2 separate regions of the Homo sapiens genome follow, and region 2 is linked to region 1. Evidence: fine-mapped expression QTL. A gene starts in region 1. The other region holds a variant in brackets. All regions are shown on one strand. Distances are from middle to middle. Region 1 holds the start of ZFYVE16 (zinc finger FYVE-type containing 16). Region 2 overlaps FAM151B (family with sequence similarity 151 member B).

What was found. PIP is the estimated chance that this variant, and not a neighbour inherited with it, causes the effect. A credible set is the group of variants that fine-mapping cannot tell apart.
Region 2: its variant is the best candidate, but not a certain one, in a credible set for the expression of ZFYVE16 in whole blood (TOPMed, PIP 0.59).

Annotation. Positions count from the first base shown.
Region 1 is chr5:80,402,418-80,415,381 of GRCh38, forward strand. ZFYVE16 (zinc finger FYVE-type containing 16) reads left to right here and starts at 5,647. Exons shown (of 19, transcript NM_001284236.3): 1 at 5,647-5,736. RefSeq lists an enhancer at 5,609-6,407 and a silencer at 6,128-6,247.
Region 2 is chr5:80,494,344-80,507,307 of GRCh38, forward strand. It overlaps FAM151B (family with sequence similarity 151 member B), which reads left to right. Exons shown (of 6, transcript NM_205548.3): 2 at 7,449-7,574. It also overlaps the pseudogene RPS27AP9 and the pseudogene RPL7P24. Among named protein-coding and RNA genes, the nearest start is that of FAM151B, 13 kb to the left of the region's middle. RefSeq lists enhancers at 2,855-3,355, 12,768-12,964. The variant T/G (reference allele first, on the strand shown) is at 7,071.

The DNA.
Region 1 (12,964 bases):
TAACATAACTACATGTTACAAAATAACATGAAACCACTAGCTAACATAGCTACAATTGTTGAATCTGTTAACAAAATAATATAATCAATGTATTATAAAATAACAATTGGTTTTAAAAAATAATTTAAGGTTCATGCCATACTGACCATTTCTTTTTGCTTATTGAATATATGTGTAGAGAGGGGTTGGACCAGGTTAATTGAATAAGCTTTCATTTATTATAATGGTTAAGGAAATCACCTTAATATAATAAAACACAATTTAATTCTAAAAATTCATGTAACTTTATCTCTATTTTCTTTGTCAATTCAAAAGCACTGCAAGATCTTGCAATGACTGCAAGATCAATAGGAAAAACAATGCAATTATGTTTAATAAACTGTCTGGGCTTGGTGGCTCACTCTTCTAATCCCAGCACTTCAGGAGGCCAAGGTCGGTGGATGGCTTGAGCCCAGGAGTTCCAGACCAGCCATGGGCAACATGGCGAAATCCTGCCTCTACAAAAAATACAAAAGTTAGCCAGGTGCAGTAGCATGCGCCTATAGTCCCAGGTATTTGGGAGACTAAGGCAGGAGAAACACTTGAGCCACAGAGGTTGAGGCGGCAGTGAGCCGAGATCGAGCCATTACACTCCAGTCTAGGCAATGGGAGTGAAACCCTGTACCAAACAAAACAAAACAACAAAAAAAAAATGAATAAGTGTTTGTTGAATTAAACACCAGTTATTCCTCTTTTTTACTGTTGATATAGAAAGCTCATAAGATTTATTATGTTTATCAACAAATCATTGCTATGTCATTAATTTATTGTTTGTCATATATTTCTAAAGAACTCAGAAAAAATATTGGTTATTTGAGCTTTTTGACTTTATAACTTTAAGTAAATACAGTTGCTGTATTAAATACAAGGATCTACAGCGATTATCTGAGCACCACAACTAAAACTTTCCTTAGAGAATTGAAAAGCCTCTCTCACAAGAACCAATACTAAATTATAGCACTTTGTACAAAAGGAGAATGGGCTGTTGAGAGTGTGTTCTTCAGTTTGCTGTTTTGATAAAGGCCTTGACCAGTAAGTGTTGCTGTACTTAACAAAGTAGTTATAACAGCCTGTACTTAACAAAGTAGTTATAACAGCAGGGAGAAATCCTGAACTTCAGGTTTTGTTTATGGATGAGCAACAATGTTCATACTGCGAGAACACCTGGTTTACTTATAAGATAAAGGCTGAAAACAGTAGGTGATCAATAAATGACAGCTATTTATAAAGTGGTTCTTAGTAATAAGTGATGATACGTGTGTCTGGTGCAACTGAACAATAGGAATGGAGCATTTTTCTGTGCCAGAGTACAACTGACCAGCTGTCTGCTCCATAAAACTGGTCATTGTAGATTTTTTATCTCTAATCTAGTTAACTTTGGGTACTACTTGGTACAAAGTTTAATTTTCATTGGTATAGGGCCTTATGTAGAAGTTCAAAACCCAGTTCTGAATTTCTGAACTCACATTTGTGCCGCTGTGGTCATCAGAAAAAAAAAAAAAAAAGGAACTGTTTACTAGGAATTGGAAGAAATATACTAGCTTTAAACCACTCACTGGCTAAATCAGGGTTTCTCAACCTTGGCACTGTTGATATTTTAGGCTGAAAACTTCTTTGTTGTTGGGGGTTCTCCTGTGAATTGCAAGACAGTTAGCGGCATCCCTGGCCTGTATCTATTAGATATCAGTAGCATTCTTTCAGTGGTGACAACCAAAAATGCCTCCAGAGATTGTCAAACGTCCTCTGGGAGGCAAAATCACCCCTCACCTCCACAGAGAACTATTGGGCTAAAGTAGTAGTCATTGATTTGAACTTTGGTTTGTTGGTTGATTTCATCTATTTTTACTACTTTATAGATCAGAAGTTTTGTGGAACCCAAATTAAATACTCTTTCAAAGCATAATTAGGAAAGGTTATTATAATTCTAAACATCTACTAAAAGTATTGCAATTGCTTTGTTAGCAGATTAAATTTTTAGTAGACATTTGGCATTAAAAGGTAATCAAAGGCTACAAATTTTATATGAACAAACTTATTAATTCTCCTTAAAAAACAAAAACAGAAACAAAAACAGAGCAAACGAGTCTTCATATAGTGACAAACATGTGGAGTGGTCATCAAGTCCCTGTATCTTATTCTCAGTTTAGTAGACTAAGAAATTCAGTTTTAAAATGTATTTGCAAGTAATTGTGCTCCAGGGAACTTATACTTGCATTAGCCAAATTCATAGGCTACTGATATAACAACATGGATGTAACTGATCAATTTATAAAAAGAAATATAACCATCAAGAATAGCAATTGTTAGGCTGGCACAGTGGCTAATGTCTGTAATCCCAGCACTTTGGGAGGTTGACTACCTGATTACCTGAATTTGAATTCTAATTGGGAGGATTGCTTGGGCCCAGAAGTTTGAGACCAGTATAGGCAACATAGTGAAACCTTGTCTTTAAAAAAATAAAAATAAAAATTATCTGGGCATGGTGATGCACGCCTGTGGTCCCAGCTACTCTGGAGGCTGAGGTAGGAGGATCACTTGGGCCCCAGGAGTTGGGGCTGCAGTGAGCCATGATCCAACCACTGCATTTCAGCCTGAGTGATATAGTAAGATCCTGTCAAAAAAAGAAAAAAAAAAGAATAACAGTTATTCATCATTTACAGTCAGTGCTTCAGTTAAGTACTTTATGTGGATTATCTCAATCAATGTATTAGTTCTATTAGCATTTGACTACAGGAGCATCAAGCTTAGAAAATTTAGGCCACACAACTAATAGGTTATAGAATTAGAATTCAAATTCAGGTAATCAGACTCTAAAGACCATACTTGAAATGACAGGGGAAATGGATTCTTAGGTTTCCTGGTCAACTTATCACACTTGTTACATTAGAGGTTTTTTTCTTTTTCCCCAGAATATAAAGGTAATATATAGATGTTGTAGAAAATGTAGACTGTCCAGGATAATAACATCTACATTCTAATCAGATAGACATGACTACTATCAACATTTTGATATACTTTCTTCACTCTTTTACATACATTGTATACTATAGCTGACCTCATACTACATAGGCAATGTTAAATATTTTTAAATATTTAAAATGTTTTTTCATGAGGTAATTTCCTCAGGCCATTAAAAATTCTTTGTAAACATAATTTTAATAGTTTTAATCACATACATGCAGTAATTATTTTAACCATTCTCTTAATGGTGGATTTTCGACTTTTATCAATTTACTTACTATGGTTAAGTATCTTTCCATAGAGATCTTCGTCTTCTGGACTACCTTCTTATAACTTCCAAAAGAGAAATGATCAAATTGGGTCATGTGAACACTCATAAGGTTCTTGATATGATTTGACAAATAACTTTCCAAAATCTTTGTCCCAATTTATATCCCTCCCAGGGTATAAGTGTCCACTTCACTCTTCTGTCACCAATCGAGTTTATTCACATTTTAAACAGATTGGGTAATTAGATGCCAGACAACCTCTTTTTTGTCTCTGTTTATTATTAATGACTTTGAATATTGATTGGTAAAATGTGTAGTAGGCATTTAAATTTCATATTTTGTGAACTGACCATTGTATATACTTTCCCCATTGATCTATTTAAGGTGTTTGTGTCTTTTTTCTATTCTCTTTACCCTCACACTTTACCGTATAAATACTTCTGTCCCCAGTATGCATTTGTATATGTGAGTCTCTGCTACTAGACTGTGGTTCCCCATGGGCAGTGGCCCCATTTTATTTTATCTGTGAACAATGCCTAACACATAGTAGGAAAAAGGCATACTGTAGTTTGTAGAATTATTCTTAGGATTAAATGAGATAACGTAAGCAAAGCATCTAACACACTGTCACAAAGCAGATGCTCAATACACACATTACTTTAGGCAATCAAAAGTTTGGCTATTTCATTTTGTTGTTTAGGAAAACCAAGGTTAAAGATTAAGTATCTTTCAAAGATCAGGAACTATAGTTGTAAACTGCAGATTTAAGATGCGAACCCTGATTCTCAAATCTTTCATCACAAATCACATGTGGCTGGAATACTCGAAAAATTATAATTCTTGCAATTTTTTTTTTTTCTTTTTTGAGACGGAGCCTTGCTCTGTCACCCAGGCTGGAGTGTGGTGGCTCGATCTTGGCTCACTGTGACCTCTGCCTCCTGGGTTCATTCAATGGTCCTGATTGTCCTGCCTCAGCCTCCCAAGTAGCTGGGATTACAGGCGCCCGCCACCACACCCAGCTAATTTTTGTATTTTTAGTAGAGACGGAGTTTCACCATGTTGGCCAGATTGGTCTCGAACTCCTGACTTCAGGTGATCCGCCTGCCTCGGCCTCCCAAAGTGCTGGGGTTACAGGCGTGAGCCACTGCGCCCGGCCAATTCTTGCGATTTTTGAAAGATCAGTATGAACTGTGAGCTGTTTAACCTTTGAGGAACTGCTTTTTCCCTGTATCTGTCTGTATCTGATCCCACATGTATGTCTCTTCCCTTGTTTTTATTTTTTATTTTTTTAGAGACACGGTCTGGTTCTGTTGCTCAGGCTGGAATGCAGTGTTGCCATCAGAGCTCACTGCAGCCTTGACCTCCTGGGCTTAAGTGATCCTCCCACTTCAGACTCCCAGCCAGTAGCTGGGACTACAGGCACGCGCCAACACGCCTGGCTAATTTTTTCATTTTCATTTTTAGTAGAGACAGGGTCTTGCTATGTTGCCCAGGCCTGTCTGGAACTCTTGACTTCAAGCGATCCTCCCGCCTCGGCCTCCCAAAGTGCTGGGATGACAGGCGTGAGCCACCGCGCCGGGTCTCATTTAAATTTATAGGAAACTTGTGGTAAAAATAGCAAAACTCAACAAGCAAATATACATCAAGTGAGTGACATTTTATTTCTACATCAGATAAGTCAGCTTTTGCTTTTAGACAGGGAGACAGCTGTTCTACCAGCTGCTTTAAAATAAAAATGCAGAACTAACGCAGCGAAGGGAAGGAAAGTGTGGCTGGGAATGTCCAGTCAGCTGGAGGGGCTTGGAGCTCGGCGTTGGCTGGGAGCATTTTTATTGCTGCCGGGAGGAGGAAGGGGAAGCGGGGGAAGCGGGGGAGGCGGGGGGGCAGCGTGTTGTAAAATCAGTTTGAAGTAAACAAAAAGTTATGTTTTCCGAGGGGCCAGCAGCGCGGAGAGCAGGCCTAGCCCGCTGCCGGGAAGGCGGGTCTGTCCAGTAGAGACCGGAACGCCGCGCAGGCTCAGCAAAGGGCTAAGGCTGGAGCCGGGGAAGCTGCCTCTAGGTTAGCGAAGGGTAAAGGAAGTCAGACACTGACGCGAGTGGCCTCCCGATCCCGCAGTCGAGTGGAGAACCGAGTCCCGACCTAAGGTCGAATCATCAGGCGTCCCCGTCACCCAACAACCCACTCAGGCACTTCCGGTAAGAAATCTAGTGCCCTTGGCTCGGAACCTGCGTCGTAGTGCGCAAGCGCCCCGGGCCTGGAGACGGCCGCGGATGCCGAGGGAGGGGGCGTGTGAGCCGAAGAGGAAAGCGTCCTCTGCGCCTGCGCTCTCTGCGCTGCCCGGTGGGGCGGGGAAAGAAGCCCTGAGCCGGGATCTGGCACTCCCAGGACTCCCGGCCGGGGTAGCTCTTCACTCCTCAGCGCGACGTCGTGTCGAGTTCCCAAAAAGCTCCGCAGGGGCTGTAGGGAGGTAAGAGCCCCCCGTGACCGGTCGTCTCGGCCTCCCCTCAGCCCTGCTGTTCCCACAGGGGGGCGGGGTGACCGCTGGACCCGCCGACCTGGGCGCTGGGTCTGGCCCTCTTCCTCTGGGGACAGAGCCTGGGCCCCGACCGATTCCTTTTCCGAGCCCCCGGAGCTGGCCGGGGAACCCTGGCCCTCCAATCTGATGTCCCCTCCTGGAGCCTGAAGGGCCAGACCGGACTGGACCGGGAGGGCAATCACGGCGGCTGTTTGCCCGGTTCCCCGCTCCCGGGCCGCCGGAGTGTTCGGCGCTCCTGGGGGAGAGACCCCAGCGGACGGAGGGAGAAGCGCCCTGGCGCCGCCGTCCCGCCTGGGGAGGGGCTGCGACTGCGGAGGGGACTGTGGTTCTTCAGGAGTGGCAGAGGCTCGGTCCCCGCAGAGGAGTCTCATCGCCGCCGGTGCTCTCGCACTGTCCATTCCCGCACCCATGCATTTTCTCTTGGTTAGAGACCAGAAGGATGCAGTGGCCGTCTTTCCCGCTGCCTTTCCTTTGGTACTTTTGAGAACTCCAAAAGAGGACCTTATTTTTAACTCTTATTTGTACTATCGTGATTGCAAATATTATGTTCCAGACTAAGGATGTTCTTTCTTATTAGTTTGACTTGTATGAAAACCAGTCCATACATTTGATATTAAGTTAATCTTTTCAATTCAAAAAATAGGCACTTTGTTGATTCAATCAGATTCCTCCATTTATTCACTTGAGCTTGTCGTCTCTTGAGTTGGCGGGAGTTTAATGGTTTAATCCAGTAGAACTATATATAATTTTTCGCCTAATTTCTTCCTTTTTTTCCTCTCCTGGATATTAAACCGCATGCTTAGTGGCAAAAATTGAAAAAATAGAATAAAGAATAAGGAAAAATGATCAATCATAATTCCACCATGTAATAGTAATCAATTACTTATAATATTTTGACTTTTTTCCTTTGAGTCTTTTTTTCCCCTGTGCATTTTCTTGAGATGAGATTTTATATCGTTGGATTGTCTGCTTTCCTTGATTTAAATTACGTTGTAAGCATTTCCCCATGTTTTTAAAAAGCTTCATAAAAATGACTTCTTGATTATACATGAGCAAAGTATCTTTTGAAACAGTTATATTACAGATAAAGCCAAATCCGCATTAATTATCCTCAATCATAATGTTACATGATAGAATAGTGCTACAGTTCATTTAACATTATGATTGGGGATAATTACGCTTAAAAATTATTGAGGACCAATAGAGTTTTTGGTTCCTAATGCTGCAGTATATTTACCATTTTGGAAATTAAAACTCAGAAAATTGAAAATGTTTTATTCATTTAAAAATCACAGACTCATGTATTAAATAATTTTTTAGTGAAAAGTAACCATTTTCTAAAACAAAACTTAGAAGAGGAGCGTGGCATTGTTTCAAATTTTTGCGAATCACTTTAATGTCTGGCATTATAGAAGACAGCTGGATTTTCATGTTTGCTTCTGTTCAGTCTGTTGTGCTATCTGGTTTAGGTTGAAGCATATGAAGAAAACACCAGCCTTGAACAGATACGTAGCAGGAAAAGCGAGGATCTTACAAGCCTGCTGAAAGGCTCCTGGGGACATCCAGGGGTCCTGAGACCACAGTTTGAGAAAGCTGATTTAACCATTTTTGGATTGGTGGGCTGTTAGGTTGTTTAAAATTTTACACTGTTACAACCCTTGCAACAGTGAAAGTTCTTTGTGATGTTTTCTGGTGTATGCGTGCTAGTGTTTTTTCTGTAAGTAGAATTGCTAGGTCATAGAGTTTTGCTTTTTTTTAAGTTTGTTAAACACATTACTTTTGATGCCTGTATAATTTGCTTTTGTGCACTAATGTTGGTGTTTAGATTGTTTCAACTAATGATTTGGTGAAATATCTTTGCATGTTTTTAGTTGTTTTGAATTATTTTCTTTTTGAGGGGGCTGGGGGGAGTCCAGTAAAAACCAGACAACTGCCAGATACATTTTAAGAGAGCTTTAACACATGGATTCTTTTCTAAAATTTCTAAAAAGATAATTGTTAGATCAAATATTAGGAATCTTTCTCAGGCTATTGGTACATATTGTCACATTGTTTTCATGGGAGATAGTACCAGTTTGTTTCCTGTCAGCAGTGTCTGACATGCTTTAAAAAAAAAAATCACACCCTTACCAACATCGAGTACTTTTATTATTTTAAAAAATTGTTTCAATTTAGCAGGCAATAAATGGTATATGTTCTAATTCTCATTACTTTGATAGTGCACTGAATAATTTTCATAATCTTACTAGTTGTCTGTTGATGTTATTTGCTCGTTTATAGTCCAGTATCCAAGTGTTTTTCTAACACATTTTTATCTTCTTAAATATATTGTAAGGAAACGTGCTGTACTTTGTTTGTTTGTTTTTTAAGACAGAGTCTCGCTCTTTCGCCAGGCTGGAGTGCAGTGGCGTGATCTCGGCTCACTGTAACCTCTGCCTCCCGGGTTCAAGGGATTCTCCTGCCTCAGCCTCCTGAGTAGCTGGGACTACAGGCACGCGCCCCCATGCCCAGCTAATTTTTGTAGTTTAGTAGAGACAGGGTTTCACCATGTTGGCCAGGATGGTCTCGATCTCCTGACCTTGTGATCCGCCTGCCTCGGCCTCCCAAAGTGCTGGGATTGCAGGTACGAGCCACCTCACCCGACCTTAGGAAACGTGCTGTACTTTTTTTTAAAGGAAAACAACAAAATTATGTTTTCTCGGTTTACAAGAGCACATGCCTTTTTTTTTTAAATTTATTTTATTTTTATTGATTTAGTTTTTTGAGATGGAGTCTCGCTGTGTCGCCAGGCTGGAGTGCAGTGGCACCATCTCGGCTCACTGCAACCTCCGCCTCCTGGGGTTCAAGCGATTCTCCTGCTTTAGCCTCCCAAGTAGCTGGGGCTACAGGCACGTGCCACCACGCCCAGCTAATTTTTTTTTTTTTTTTTTTTTGTATTTTTAGTAGAGACAGGGTTTCACCATGTTGGCCAGGATGATCTCGATCTCTTGACCTTGTGATCTGCCCACCTCAGCCTCCCAAAGTGCTGGGATTACAGGCATGAGCCACCACGCTGGCCAAGTATATGCTTATAAAAAAAAAGTAAAATAGTATGAAGACATATCATGTAGCTCTGAAAGGCTTACATAATCCCATTCCTAGATTTATAGTATTACTAACATCATTAATGTTTGTTCCTTCATATTTTTTTACTATGCATTTGTTAATTTTTTTTACAACTTATTTGTAAAAATAGGTTTGCACTATGCATAAAGTTTTGTGATTTGATTTTCTTTCATTTAACATTATATATTGGATATTTTTCTACTGAAGTACATATAACTGGGCAAAGTTTTATCCTGAGTGGTTTTAGGAACATGAGTTGTGATCTTTAGTTATCTGATGGCAGGCTCTTGTCCTCTTCTAAATATATTCTCTTCCTAGGTGATCTCATCCATTAACAGCTGTGTGTTGCCAGTTCCCAAATCTTTATCTATCTCAGACTTCTCTCCTGCATTCCAGATTCTTATATTCAGCTGCCTTTTGGATATCTCTCCCAGGATGTTCTCAAGGTACTTCAAACAGTCCAAACGTGAACTCATGTTTTCCCTTAATCCTGCTCCTCTTTGTATTGCCTGTCATGGTCAGTGGCACCACCATCTACCCTAGCCACTCATGGTGGAAACCTGGCACTAATCCAGCTTTCTCCCTTGCTTTCGGTCTCCAAAACTTCTCATTATTTTGCCACTTTTATTTCATTTTATTATTTTTATTTGAGACAGGATCTCACTCTGTTGTCCAGGCTGGTCTCAAATTCCTGGGCTCAAGCTAATCCTCCCACCTCAGGCTCTGGAGTAGCTGAGACCACAGGCGGGCATCACCATGCCTGGCTCATTTTAGCCACCTTTATATGTATTTCCTTTTTTTCTCCACTGCATTATCTCAGCTCAGGCCTTCATCTCTTACCTTAACCATTTTAGGTGTCTCCTTACTGTTGGTTTTGTTGGTTTTCTGGTTAATCTTCCATGTTACTGCCAATTTTTGTAATCATGAAGAGATTTTTAAAAACCATTTTATTGTAAATATTACGAAGATTTTTTCTTAAATTTAAAAATATATAAATAGCCAAGTGAGTAAAAATACTACCTAAAATAAGTTATATGTATACATAAATAAACCTATTTTAAAAGGGAGTATATCTTATATTTCTTTTATGTCTTATACTGAATATGGTAGATTATTGGCACAAAAAGTACATACTGATTGATTGAAATGGGAAATATACACAGCTTAATGAGATTTCATGTTAAAACATTTCAGTATACCGTATTTACATTGTCATATCATACCTTTTACAAATTATATTATCTTTTTTTATATCTTTCTTGGCACCTGAAATTACATAATGCTTAGTAGAGCATTGCTATATAGATAGGAATGTTTTGTAAATATATGTTATTTAATGAATTCCATAATTTATTTCTAAAAAATTCTCTGGCTTTTGCTAATAAGAAACTATTTCTAGACCTTTCAGTTTCTGTGCTTAATTTGTTAAATACATCCTGTATTCAGAGTTCCGTTACTACTACTTTTTACTATTATGTTTATTTTAAATTTAATGTTTATATTTATCGAAGGGATACCTGTACATAAACAGTCAAATAGTACTTCAAGGATTATAATGAAAAACTGTCTGGGTGTGGTGGCTCACGCCTGTAATCCCAGCACTTTGGGAGGCTGAGGCAAGAGGATCACATCAGCCCAGGAGTTTGAGACCATTCTGGGCAACATAGTGAGACCTTGTCTCCACAAAAAATAAACAAAATTAGCTGGGTTGTGGGGCACACACCTGTTGTTCCATTTACTTGGAAGGCTGAGGTGGGAGGATCGCTTGAGCCCAGCACGTGGAGGCTATAGTGAGCTAATATCGTGCCACTGCAGTCCAACTTGCGCAACAGAGTGAGACCCTGTCTCAAAAAAGAAGAGAGGGCTGGGTGCGGTGGCTCATGCCTGTAATCCCAGCACTTTGGGAGGCTGAGGCAGGAGGATCACCTGAGGTCGGGAGTTCGAGACCAGCCTGACCAATATGGAGAAACCCCATCTCTACTAAAAATACAAAATTAGCCAGGCATGGTGGCGCATGCCTGTAATCCCAGCTACTTGGGAGGCTGAGGCAGGAGAATCGCTTGAACCTGGGAGGCGGAGGTTGCAGTGAGCTGAGATCGCGATATTGCACTCCAGCTTGGGCAACAAGATCAAAACTTCATCTCAAAAAAAAAAAAAAGAAAAAAAAAAGAGAAAAACAACAATCTTCTGCCCCAGTCCTTCTCACCCCTGAATCCCACTCTCCAGAAGCAGTCTTTCTCAATCAGTGCTTTCTGTCTGAATCACTGAACAAGAAAAATGATTTGAGCAACTATTTTCTTAATTCTCCCAAAGAGGGTAGGTAGCTAATAATATGATGGATGCATAGGAGAGAAGTTAGTTTATTACATAAAATGGAAGCCTTAGGGCATTAAAGATTAATTCTCTCGCCGAACCTTAATTGAGAAAGGCTGCTCCAGAGTCAGTGACTTCAATTCCTTATCACTTCCAGTTTTTTAAAATGACATATTTAGATATATGGCGATATCCCCTCCCCATTCCCATCCTAATGCGATTTGAAGTATAGTTTACTCATTTCCTATTACAGAAGATGGGAGTTTAGGTTTTTTGTACCAACTCCTACCTTTAAACACTGCATTTCACTTCCCCTCTCCCCTCTATATTCCCAAATTAGTTACATGTTAACTTTTAGTTATTTGGTGTTTACCTCATTTTAACTATGTAAATATTGTATGTAGCTGAACAAGGTAAGTGTGAGGTTATTTCCTTTCTTGTATAATTTTTGTTTTTCCTAGTTAATATCTTAATTCTTTTGTACATGTACCTTTTATATTTCTTTATAAATAAATGTTTTATATCTTTTTAATGTGTCTTTTGTATTCTTTATTTGATCTATTAATCTCTTGAACCAGATACATCAGTCTCCTCTTAGTAGATTCAAACACATCTGATAATCTGTTTTGCGACATCTTTCCTGCCTCCATCTTGATGGGTTGCTCTCTAGGCCTGTTGCACAACTCTCTTCCTGGACTGCCCTTTTACAGTCATCTGTGAATTGCATTTGTCTCTTCTGTGTGGGTAGCCTCTTTTTCTTGGATTTCAGGTTTTCCTTTTTCTTGGTGTCTCCCTTATATTGGCAGAGTATGTTTTTGAGTAGCTTCCTGAGAGAGACAGAATGGGATGCACATATTTTGGGTTCTTGCATGGTCAACCATTTTTTTATTTAACCCTCACATTTATGATAACCAATCCTTTGATTGTGACCTGTTATATCTCTTTGGAAGCGTTTATATTTATTCAGCAAGTATGTATTGAGCACATTTTATGTGCCGGGCACTGGTCAAGACATTTTGAATATATAGGTGAACAAAAATACAAGATTCATGTCCTTATAGAGCTTAAATTCAGGGAGGGAGGAGTTGTTCAACAGCAAATATAATAAATAAATTATACAAAACATTGGGAGTTTGTAAAGTAAATAACTGCTTTAGAAAAGAGAAAAAAGAGCAGGCTGGGGTGGGAAGTTCAGGAATGTTGGGGAAAGGAGAGGTAGGGGATGCAGACTGTAGTATTAAATGGGGTGATCCTCCCTTCAACCATTCAGGTGTTCTGAAATTTCACAATGATGTTGGTTGGTAAGAGTTTTTCATTCATGTGTTGGGCCCCAAATGGGCCCTTTCCATTTGGAGACCATATCCGTGGTTTATTTGACAGTTTCTTCTTTCCCTCCCTTCCTTCTTTCTGGACTTCTTTTATTAGAATATTAAACCTCATTAGATTGATTCTCTAATTTCTAATATTTTCTCTCCTGTTTTCTATCCCTTTCTGTTCTGTTTTCTAGGATATTTTCTCAACTTTATTTTATAACACCTTGATTGCATTTTTAAAAATAAACATTTTATTTTGGAACAGTTTTAGATTTACAGAATTATTGCAGACAGTATAGAGTTCCTATATACTCCACACCCAGTTTATTATTAACATCTTAGATTAATATGGTACATTTGTTATAATTAGTGAACTAGTATTGATACTTTATTAACTAAAGGCTATACTTTATTCGCATTTCCTCATT
Region 2 (12,964 bases), 92 kb after region 1:
TGGAGAAGCTACAGCAAGTGATCCAGAAGATCTAGTTAAGATCATTGATGAAAGTAGCTGCACTAACAGCAGATTTTCTTTCTTTCTGTCTTTCTTTCTTTTTCTTTCTTTCTTTTCTTTCTTTCTTTCTTTCTTTCTTTCTTTCTTTCTTTCTTTCTTTCTTTCTTTCTTTCTTTCTTTCTTTTTTAAGACAGGGTCTCCCTCTGTAACACAGGCTGGAGGGCAGTGGCATGATCGTGGCTAATTGCAGCCTGGACCTCCTGGGTTCAATCGATCCTCCCACCTCAGCCCCCCAAGTAGCTGGAACTATAGGCACACACCACCACGGCCTACTAATTTTTGTATTTTTTTGTAGAGACGGGATTTCGTCATGTTGCCCCAGCTGGTCTCGAACTCCTGGGCTCAAGTGATCCTCCCACCTCAGCCTCCCAAAGTGCTGGGACTACAAGCATGAGCCACTGTGCAGGGCCAACAATAGATTGTCAGTGTAAATAAAACAGCCTTCTATTGTAAGAAGATGCCATTAGAACTTTCATTGCTAGAGGGGAAAAGCCAATATTTGGCTTAAAATCTTCAAAAGACAGGCTGACTTTCTTGTTAGGGCTAATGCAGCTGGTGACTTTAAGTGGAAGCCAGTGCTCATTACTATACTGAAAATCACAGGGTCCTTAGGAATTATGCTACATCTACTTCTCTGCCTGTGCTCTAGAAACGTAACAACAAAGCCTGGATGACAGCACGTCTGTTTACAGCATGATTTACAGAATATTTTAAGCCCACTGTGGGGACCTGCTGCTCAGGAAAAAAAATATTTCTTTCAAGATATTACTGTTGATTGACAAGGCACCTGGTCACCCAAGAGCTCTGATGGAGATGTGCAAAGAGATTGATGCTGTTTTCCTGCATGCTTGCATCTATTCTGCAGCCCGTGGATCAAAGGGTAATCTTGACTTACAAGTCTTATTATTTGAGAAATGTTTTGTAAATCTATAGCTGCCATAGATAGTGATTCCTCTGATGGATGTGGGCAAAGAGTCATCATCCTAGATTCCATCAAGAAGATTTGTGATTAATGGGAGAAGGTAAAAATATCAACATTAACAGGAGTTTGGAAGAAGTTGATTCCAGCTCTCATGGGTGACTTTGAGGGATGCAATACTTCAATAGAGGATGTAACTGCAAATGTGATAGAAATAGCAAAAGAGGGCAGGGCGCAGCGGCTCATGCCTATAATCCCAGCACTTTGGGAGGCTGAGGCAGGCGGATCATGAGGTCAGGAGATTGAGACCATCCTGGCTAACACAGTGAAACCCCGTCTCTACTAAAAATGCAAAAAATTAGCCGGGCGTGGTGGCGGACGCCTGTAGTCCCAGCCACTCGGGTGGCTGAGGCAGGAGAATGGCATGAACCCAGGAGGCAGAGCTTGCGGTAAGCCGAGATGCGCCACACTGCACTCCAGCCTGGGCGAAAGAGCGAGACTCCGTCTCAAAAAAAAAAAAAAAAAAAAAAAAAAAAAGAACTAGTAAGAGAACTAGAATTAGAATGGAGCCTGAAGATGTGACTACATTATCGCAATTTTATGATAAGACTTTAATGAACTAGGAGTTCCTTCTTATGTATGAGCAAAGACAGTATTTTCTTGAGATGTAATCTACTTCTGGTGAAGATGCTGTGAACATTGTTGAAATGACCACAGATGATAAAGAATATTACATACACTTAGTTGTTAAAACAGCAGCAGAGTTTGAGAGAATTGACTCTCATTTTGAAAGTTCTCCTGTGGGTAAAATGCTATCAAACAGCATTGTGTGCCACAGAGAGATCTTTCATGAAAGGAAGAATCCACTGATGTCGATAACTTCATTGCCTTATTGTAAGAAATTGTCACAGCCACCACAGCCTTCAGCAACCACCACCCTGATTGGTCAATAGCCATCAACATTGAGGCAAGACCCTCTACCAGTTAAAAGATTACAGCTAGCGGAAGGCTCAGATGATTGTTAACACTTTTTAGCAATAAAGTATTTTAAAATTAAGGTATGCACATTTTTTTAGACATAATGCTATTGTACAACTAATAGGCTACAGTATAACAGTGTAAACATAACTTTTATATGTACTGGGAAACCAAAAATTGTGTGACTTGCTTTATTGTGATACTCACTTTATTCCAGTGGCCCATAACTGAACCTTCTATCTCAGATGTACACCTAGACATCTGTCAAAACCTATAAAATGTATGATACCAAGAGTGAATTCTAATGTAAACTATGGACTTTAGTTAACAAAATGTCAGTATTGGCTCATCTATTCTAACAGACATACCACACTAATGCAAGATGTTAAAAATTGGGGAGCTTTAAATAAAAGCAATTTTTAAATTACCAAAACAGCCAAAACCAGGGAAATCGAGGGAAGAGTGGGGATGATATGGGAACTTTGCTCTTTTTGCTTAATTTTTTTTTTTTTTTTTTTTTTTTTTTTTGAGACGGAGTCTTGCTCTGTCACCCAAGCCGGAGTGCAGTGGTGTGATCTTGGCTCACTGCAACCTCTACCTCCTGGGTTCGAGCTATTTCCCTGCCTCAGACTCCTGAGTAGCTGGGACTACAGACGTGAGCCACCACACCCAGCTAATTTTTGTATTTCTAGTAGAGAAGGGGTTTCAACATATTGGCCAGGCTGGTCTCGAACTCCTGACCTCAGATGATCTGCCCACCTCGACCTCCCAAAGTGCTGGGATTACAGGCGTGAGCCACCATGCCCAGCCTAATTTTTTTCTGTAAATGAAAACTGCTCAAAAGGCCAGGCACGGTGGCTCACGCCTATAATCTCAGCACTTTGGGAGGCCAAGGGCAGCAGATTGCTTGAGGCCAGGAGTTTGAGAACAACCTGGCCAACATGGTGAAACACCATTTCTACTAAAAATACAAAAAGCAGCCGATGTGATGGTAATCTCAGCTGCTCAGAAGGCTGAAGCATAAGAATTGCTTGAACACAGGAGGCGGAGATTGCAGTGAGCTGAGATCATGCCCCTGCACTCCAGCCTGAGTGACAGAGCAAGACTCCGGCTCAAAAAAAAAAAAAAACAAAAACAATAAAAAAACTACTCAAAAACTCAATCTTAAAAAAGTTACAACTATTTTTGCCTTTCTCTTGGCCCTGTTTTCAGAGTTACAGCCTGTTTAAATAATAATACTAAGACCTTAGATCATAGGTAATTGGATCCTCTGTAAGTTTTAAGATATATACAGTCGTGGCTTAAATACAAACTAACAATTTCACTTAGTAAAAGGGTAAGGAAAACTTCTTACTTTAAATTTTTTTAAATTCTAGAGTCCTGGTATTTTATTATTACTCTGTAAGTTGCCTTTATAAAAATTCTGAATGCAGTATGTTTAGTTGAAAAGTGCTGTGGAAGGAAGGGGAACATCACACACCAGGGCCTGTCGTGGGGTAGGGGGAGGGGGGAGGGATAGCATGAGGAGATATACCTAATGTAAATGACGAGTTAATGGGTGCAGCACACCAACATGGCACATGTATACATATGTAACAAACCTGCACGTTGTGCACATGTACCCTAGAACTTAAATAAAAAATAAATAAATAAATAAAAAGTGCTGTGGAAATATCCAATATGAACCATTAACCAACATTTAGGTTTTTCTGGTAATGTAATGCTTATCAGTCCTCTAAATCATTTGGTGTATCTCAAAACCTTCATTTTTAACAGCCACGTTAGTCACATATTCTATCATGCATATGTACTGTGATTTAATTATTTTCCTATTGTTGGACATTTGTTATAGCCAATCAATAATGTGCCTTCTAAAATGGCTACCTTAATATTTTAAAGAATGATGGCCATGTGTTGCCATCTCAGTATGAAAGGTCTATGACTCTATTATATATGCCAAATAGGGCCACGTGTTTTCAGTGAGAGACTGCTTTGGGGATAGTGGATCCTCCACCTAACTGTCCTTTTTTTTTTAAATTCTGCAGCCCAGCGTTAGAAGTGACTGCTAAGTCCCATGTATGTTAGTTAGAATTTGTCTTTATATGCCCCTCCATTCTCTGATATCTTATCAGCAGTTTCCGATAGCCATTTTTAGGTTTAAGGTTTTTGGTTTTTTGGGGGGCTTTTAAAAAAGATGTTAGCTCATGTCTTTTATTAACTCATAGACAATTACTTGTCTTCTGGTTTGTTGAAGCAGTAAGTCAGACAACATTTGCCACAATAATGTCTGTCAAAGTAGCTTGCCATAAACACTCCAGCACCATCTGAATGGCACTCTCGACAAAGGTGTCTAATTTTGCCATTCTCTTCCACCTTATAGTATTTCAGGACAGCCAGCTTCATCTTCTTTCTCTTGTGTTTATTATTCTTGGGAGTGGTGTAAGACTTCTTCCTTTTCTTAGCACCACCACAAAGTCTCAACCCAAGATGAAGAGTAGACTCCTTTTGAATGTTGTAGTCAGACAGAGTACCTCCATTTTCCAGTTGCTTGCCAGCAGAGATCCGTCTTTGCTGATCAGGAGGAATTCCTGGATTTTGGCCTTTACCTTTTCTATTGTGTCCGAGGGTTCAACCTTGAGGGTAGTGGTCTTCCCCGGAAGGGTTTTTACGAAATCTGCATTTTGGTGGCAGCTCCACCACAGATGGCAGATGGAAAAAAAAAAAAAAGTAGTTTTAGGTTTTTAACTGTAGTTAGGCAGAGTTAACAAACAAATAATTAACAGAGGAAAGAATCTCATGCGTGGGGAATTTGCAGGCACTTGCTAGGCTCTTAATAAATGTTTGAAGCATGAACAAGGATTAGGGAGGTAAAATTATGGACAACTTTTTTTCAGCATTTTCTTCTTTTATGTTATGATATAGTATGGAATAGATCTGGGTTCAGATATTTTTGCTACCACTTACCTTAGTCTTGGTTAACTCACAAGTTTTAATGCTTAATCAAGAGAAAATATGTTATACCAAAAAGTAGTTGAAAGATATGAGAATTATGTATATTGCACACGCTAGATAAACTTATGAATGCTAATTCAAGAGATTACTTGCTCACTCATATAGATGTTGCTGAGAATAATCTGAAGGTAGATATGCAGTAAGATATGCAATTTAAATATTAAATTGTTAATATAAATATAGAATGGGGTTTCAGGTAGAGAAAACAATTAAGTGTGTAAAACTTAGAATTTTAAATATAGCTTTGGCTTTACATCAGTTTTCCTTATATTTCTGGACCAGCATTGTAGAGAACATCATATGAAATTTCCAGCTTTTAAATATCTGCTTTAGTTTTGTTTTCTTCCTGCATTCTTATGCTTCTGATGTTCAGACTATCCTATATGTCTACTAATTATTACATTATATAATATATAACATGTTTATATATATTATATACTTGCCACATCATAATACTTGTTCTCTGTTTTTAAAATCTTATATTTTTCCCAGCCTAACTATTTTGTTATTATCCCTCAATATCTTGTCTGTTCTTTGTTAATTTTTTTTTTTTTTTTTACTCTATAACTCAGCAATCCCTTTTCCGGGCACATACCCAAAGGAAATGAAATCACCACTTTGTAAAGATATCTGCACTCCCATGTTCATTGCAGCATTATTTACAGTGGCCAAGGTATGGAAGCAACAAGTGTTTGTTGATAGATGAATGAATAAACAAACTGTGGTACATAGATAAAATGGAATATTATTCAGCCCTAAAGAAGAATGAGAACTTACCATTTTCCACATCATGGATGAGCCCGGAGGACATTATGCTAAGTGAAATAAGCCAGACACAGAAAGAAAAATAGTGTATGATCTCACTTATATGTGGAATAAAAAAAAATCAAATATAACAGAAATAGATGACAAAACAATGGCTATGGGGAGGGGGAAGCAAAGGAAATGGGGAGATGTAGGTTAGAGCATACAGAACAGATATATAAGATGAGCAAGTTGCCTCTTTTTCCGGCTGGAACCATGGAGGGTGTAGAAGAGAAAGAGAAGGTTCCTGCTGTGCCAGAAACCCTTAAGAAAAAGCAAGGGAATTTCGCAGAGCTGAAGATCAAGTGCCTGAGAAAGAAGTTTACCCAAAAGATGCTTTGAAAGGCAAGGAGGAAGCTTATCTGTGAAAAAGCAAAACACTGTCACAAGGAATATAGGCAGATATACAGAACTGAATTTTGAATGGCAAGGATGGCGAGAAAAGCTGGCAACTTCTGTGTACCTGCAGAACCCAAAATGGCATTTGTCCTCAGGATCAGAGGTGTCAGTGGTGTGAGCCCAAAGGTCCGAAAGGTGTTGCAGCTTCTTCGCCTTCATCAAATCTTCAGTGGAACCTTTGTGAAGCTCAACAGGCTTCAGTTAACATGCTGAGGATTGTAGAGCCATATATAGCATGGGGGTACCCAAATCTGAAGTCAGTAAATGAACTAATCTACAAGCGTGGTTATGGCAAAATCAATAAGAAGCGAATTGCTTTAACAGATAACACTTTGATTGTTCCATCTCTTGGTAAATATGGCATCCTCTGCATGGAGGATCTGATTCATGAGATCTATACTGTTGGAAAACACTTCAAAGAAGCAAATAACTTGCTGTGGCCCTTCAAATTATCTTCGCCATGAGGCGGAATGAAGAAAAAGACCATCCATTTTTATTTTATTTTATTTTATTTTTGAGACAGAGTCTCACTCTGTCACCCAGGCTGGAGTGCAGTGGCATGATCTCAGCTCACTGCAACCTCTGCCTCCCATGTTCAAGCGATTCTCCTGTCTCAGCCTCTGGAGTAACTGGGATTACAGGCGTGTGCCACCACACCTGGCTAATTTTTTTTTTTTTATTTTTGTTAGAGACAGGGTTCCACCATGTTGGCCAGGCTGCTCTCCAACTCCTGACCTCAGGTAATCCGCCCACCTCAGCCTCCCAAAGTGCTGGGATTACAGGCGTGAGCCACCGCGCCCGGCCGAGAGACCACCCATTTTGTAGAAGGTGGAGATGCTGGCAACAGGGAGGACCAGATCAACAGGCTTACTAGAAGAATGAAATAAGATGTCTACCA[T/G]GATTATTTTTCTAAGCTGGTCAGTTAGTAAACAGTACCTGCTCTCAAATTGAAAAAAAAAAAAAAAAAAAAAGATGAACAAGTCAAGATCTAATGTGCAACATGAGGACTCCAGGTAATAAAATTGTACTGTATATAAGGGATTCGTGTTAAATGAGATTTTAGCTGTTCTTGCCACACAGAGAAAACAGATATGTGAGATGATGGATATGTTAATTTGCTTCATTATAGTAACCTTTTTACTATCTATCTATCTATCTATATATATATATCACATAACAGCATATGTGTATCTTAAATATACACAATGAAAGTGATTTTAAAAATTTTACCCTATAAAAAACAATATCACTTTTCATGTAAACACTGTTATTTTAGGATCTTGGAGTGAAAATATACTGGAATATTTTCTGAGAAATAGCCAGATTACAGCAGAAGACGGTGCTGAGATCACCTGGTATCATGCAGCTAACCACAAGGCACAAACAAATGAGGCACTGAAAAGTAAGTCAGTACAGTTACTTGTAATTTACTTTGGATAATAGATTAATTCAACTCCTTTTTTGATATCTAGGTATATTTGCAGATACTAGAGACAGGTGATCCAAGTGTAAGTTCCAGGCTGACATGAGTATTTTATTTATTTTTATTTATTATTTAATTATTATTTATTCATTTTTAGAGACATAGTCTCTCTCTGTTGCCCAGGCTGGAAAACAAAGGTGTAATCACAGCTCATTGCAGGCTCAAACTCCTGGGCTCAGGTAATCTGTGAGCCATCACACCAGGCTGAACATTTTTATAAAGTGTTTCATTTTGTTTACAAAATGGACAAATTGCATAATGAAAGAATTTTCTTATTTTCTAGAAGCAATTTGCCTGTTATGTCTGATTCGAAACTCTCATATATTATTATATTTTCTTATGTATGTAGTGATTTGAGTAAAACTTTTAAGATCAGGACCATGTATCTTACATATTTTTATGTCTTTCATCATGTACTAATGAGAAACCCACTCAATATTTGTTCAATGGATGGATGAAGGCATTGTATACCAATTTATAATTAATAAATAATTGGGCAATATTTATGCCTAAGCTAGAAATCAAGTCTTTGGTTTACTGATTCAACCTGTAATCATTGTATGTATATCCCTTCATTATACAGATGAACATTATAGCAGTGTTTCTCAGCCTTTTCCTATAAAGTGCTCATGTTGGCTGCAGCAGGAAAGGAGAAAGAAAGCATATCACTACAGGGCCGGGGCAGAGCTTGCAGTATCTGGTCCAACAAGAAATTACCTTGAAATTCCATATTTTATTATAAAAGTGTATGCATTTTTGCATCCTAATTCATTATATATCTCAGCTTCTTTTATTGTCAAAACACTGTTTTAAATTGTATTTTTCTCCTCAAAAGGAAGAATTTTGTCTTGTTTCATGTTGAATCCTTAATGCCTGAAACAGTGCGTAGCATATAATAACTACACAGTGATTATTTAGTAAATGAATTTTAGCAAAATTGATGCCTCAGGAAATGGTTGCTTAATGATTGTCAGGAACTGTAAGGAGTCAATGCTAATGAGTACAGGGTTTCTTTTTTGGATGATGAAATTTTTCTAGAATTAGAGAGTGGTTATAGTTACATAACCTTCTGAATACGCTAAATAAAAACCACTAAAGGGTTCACTTTAAAAGGGTGAATTTTATAGTATGTAAATTATGTCTCAGTTTTTAAAAATGAAAAAAATGATAGGAAAGGAAGAAATAAAACCTTTATTCACAGACAGTATGATTGTGTTTATAGAAAACAAAAAAGATTCTATAGATAAATGATCATAATAAATAGGTGAACTTAGAAAATCTCAGGATGTGGTCAGGGCGGTGGCTCATGCCTGTAATCCCAGCACTTTGGGAAGCCAAGTTGGGTGGATCATTTGACCCCAGGAGTTGAAGATCAGCTTAGGCAACATAGTGAGACCCTGTCTCTACAAAAAATAGAAAAATTAGCCGGGCATGGTGGCATGTACCTGTAGTCACAGCTACTCAGGAAGCTGAGTCAGGAGGATCGATTGAGCCCAAGAGCTGGAGGCTGCAGTGAGCTGTGATTGCACCATTGCACTCCAACCTAGGTGACAGAGTGAGGACCTTGTCTCAAAAAAAAAGAAAGAAAGCAAAGAAAAGAAAATCTCAGGATTCAAGGTCAAAATAGAAAATAAATTCTGTTTTTTTCTAATAACTGAAAATCTAGAAATACAACTTAAAAAATTTTACAATTTGTATAATAATAGTATATACAAAGCCCTTTTGCCATCATAGCCTGGGGATGGTGAAAAGTTACTTTTGCTATGCTGAACAGGAGTTGATGAAGCAAGGCAAAGTCTGGCCATGGTCACAAGCTGGAGCTCCTGTGGGTGAGGCAACGTATGCCTTGATATACAGACTTCCTCCTCTTGCTGTCCCTGTTATATGAGACTATTAGAACCATGCAGTCTCCCAAGCAGAAGTGTGCCCTGACTTTTAAAAGTCTTCTACCCACAGGCTATGGATGGAAGACTAGGGAGAGGGGCTGGGCAGCTTCTGTATCTTCTGTGTCTCCAGGCCAGGTCTCCCTCTCTTGTTAGGACTGTTAATATTAGTCCATCCAACTGCTTATTGATGTTTCCACTTAGAGATCTCTCATGCGTCTCAAATTTACGTTATCCGAAATGAGATTCTTGACTATATTTACTAACCTGCACTTCCTGTGATCTTTCTTGTCTCAGGAAATGGCACCACAATCTACTTAGATGTTTCAACCAGAAATCTAGGAGTCATTTTTTCGCTCCTTTCTTTATTCTTGTATCTAATATCCAATCATTATGATTCTATTCCAAAATACATTTTGAATTAGTCCACATCTTTCTTTCCATCTTTCTTATCATTATCCTAGAAGCCACCAGGATTTCTTGCTCATACTGCTGTAGTTCCCCCTTTTTTTTCATGTAGGAGACCTTAGGAACATACTTTACATGGGCCCAGAGACTCCTCAACTTGCCCATTTACTGATTTTTTTTCTATCTATTGGAAATAATGGAATTAGCAGACTGCGACTATTACTCTTTTTTTTTTTTTTTTTTTTTTTTTGAGATGGAGTCTTGATCTGTCGCCAGGCTGGAGTGCAGTGGCACGATCTATGCTCACTGCAACCTCTGCCTCCCGGGTTCAAGCCATCCTCCTGCCTCAGCCTCTGAGTAGCTGGGACTATGGGCATGTGCCACCATGCCCAGCTAATTTTTGTATTTTTAGTAGAGATGGGGTTTCACCATGTTGGCTAGGATGGTCTCCATCTCCTGATCTCCTGATCTGCCCTCCTTGGCCTCCCAAAGTGCTGGGATTAGACTATCACTCTTAAATGAAAGATTCCAAGCTTTTGTGCCCCTTTATAACCACACTGATAAAGGAGACCTACAACCCCCTTCCCCAACTTCATCCTGGGAAAATAATAAAAGACTAGATCATCTATCTTTCTGCAAATTCACTTGCCCTGTTGTCCTTGCAGAAGTTTGGCCATAGGGTGAAAGAACAACTTCTCTGTATCTGCCCTCCCCCTGGCGAGATAAGCCACACAAACATCAGGACTCAGCACTATTCACATGGTTGAAGAATTCCACCTTTGGCAGAGGGCTGGAAGCTGTTTGGATAGTACCTGGACATTGCTTAGAATTGCATTTGATAGAGAATAAAAGGAGTATAAAACTCTTTGATTGGTCTTGGTGTTTTGGTGTTTATTTCTTTATTTTTATTTTTTGTAGAGAGTCTGGTCCCAAACTCCTGGCTGCAAGCAGTCCTCCTGCCTCAGCCTCCCAAAGTGCTGGGATTACAGGTGTGAGCACCACACCCAGCCATTTTGTTATTTTATGCTTTGCCTCACTGTAATTAAAAGATCCTAAATATGGTATAGCTTAGAGAAGAGAGACATAGCAAACATCCATTGAGTTCTTTTTTTTTTTCTTTTTTGAGACAGAGTCTCACTCTGTCACCCAGGCTGGAGTGCAGTGGCACGATCTCGGCTCACTGCAAGCTCCGCCTCCTGGGTTCACACCATTCTCCTGCCTCAGCCTCCCAAGTAGCTGGGACTGCAGGCACCCGCCATCACGCCTGGCTAATTTTTTGTATTTTTAGTAGAGACGGGGTTTCACTGTGTTAGCCAGGATGGTCTCGATCTCCTGACCTCGTGATCTGCCCGCCTCGGCCTCCTAACTTGCTGGGATTACAGGCGTGAGCCACCGCACCCAGCCACATCCATTGAGTTCTTACTACATCACCAGTCCCCTTTTCTTTCTTCCTATAAGAATTTTTTTTTTTTTTTTTTTTTTTTTGAGACAGAGTCTCGCACTGTCATCTGGGCTGGAGGGAAATGGCACAATCTCGGCTCACTGCAACCTCTGCCTCCTGTATTCACGTGATTCTCCTGCTTCAGCCTCCCGAGTAGCTGGGATTACAGGCTCACACCACCACACCCGGCTAATTTTTTGTATTTTTTGTAGAGACGAGATTTCACCGTGTTGGCCAGACTGGTCTCGAACTCCTGACCTCATGATCCGCCTGCCTTGGCCTCGCGAAGTGCTGGGATTACAGGTGTGAGCCACCACGCCCGGCCAAGAACTTTACTTTTATTAAGGTATCCATTTCTGCTCCATACAAGCATATGGAAACTGGTTCCATTTGTAGCTCCAGGGGTGCATTACAATAAGTTAATCAGCACTTGAAGTTTTCCTGATGATTCATATTGCTCCCATGGTGGGCAAGTGATCAAACTGGGCTCAATTAGACTCAAGTAAAGTAATTATAATTACCAAAGAAGTTTTATATCTTAAAATTGAAGTATGTGAACATGAAAATATGTAGCCCTAGTGATTATTGGTAGCTGTCTTAAAATCATGAGATGAAATTAGCCTTACGATGAAGACGACACCAAGGACAGTGAAGAAAAGAGACATAAAGATCACAATAACATCACTGAGCTGCTGATTGTACCACACTTAAAGCTCACCTGACCCCTGGACTTTTAGTTATTTGAGATGATAAATCTACTAGCTTGAATCTGAATTTCTATTTATTTGCCGCCAGAAGCATCCAGTAGATCTATGAGTCCATCCTAATTGGATAGATTATTTTCCCTGCTTCCACACTTGCCCCTGTCTATTTTATTTTCCACCCAGCATCCAAAGTGGTATATTTAAACATAAATCAAGCCTCTTTATTGGTCTCAAATGGTGTTCCATTTAAAATCTTTAATATAATTGCTAGATAGAAACATGTTTGGTTCTACTGCTCTGGTTTCCAAGAGGAGAGATTTTTTTCCCTAAAGGCTTTGACCTCTTGCCTCACTGTTTATTTCTCTCATAGAGGTTGAGAGATTGTTTTGATTTGTAGTTCTTGACTGGGTGGAGCTAATCTATCAAATGCACTAGGCCAAGCAAGGTGGCTCACGCCTGTACTCCCAGCACTTTGGGAGGTCGAGACCAGCCTGGCCAACATGGTGAACCTCCGTCTCTACTAAAAATACAAAAATTAGCTGTGCATGGTGGTGCATGCCTGTAGTCCCAGCTATTTGGGAGGCTGAGGCAGGAGAATTGCTTGAACCCAGGAAGCAGAGGTTGCAGTGAGCCAAGATCATGCCACTGCACTCCAGCCTGGGTAACAGGGTGAGACTCCATCTCAAAAAAAAAAAAAAAAAAATGTGCTGGACAAGGGAGTGAGCTCTTCTCTTCCACTGGGAAGCAGCCATCTGGATATTTGTATTTGTTAGAACTTTGCTTCAAAGGGGCTGTTCCAAGATTTGGACTAGAGGGTGACTGTGGCAGTTAGCAGGTAGCAGGCACAGGCTTATTTAGTTCTCAACTAAGCTG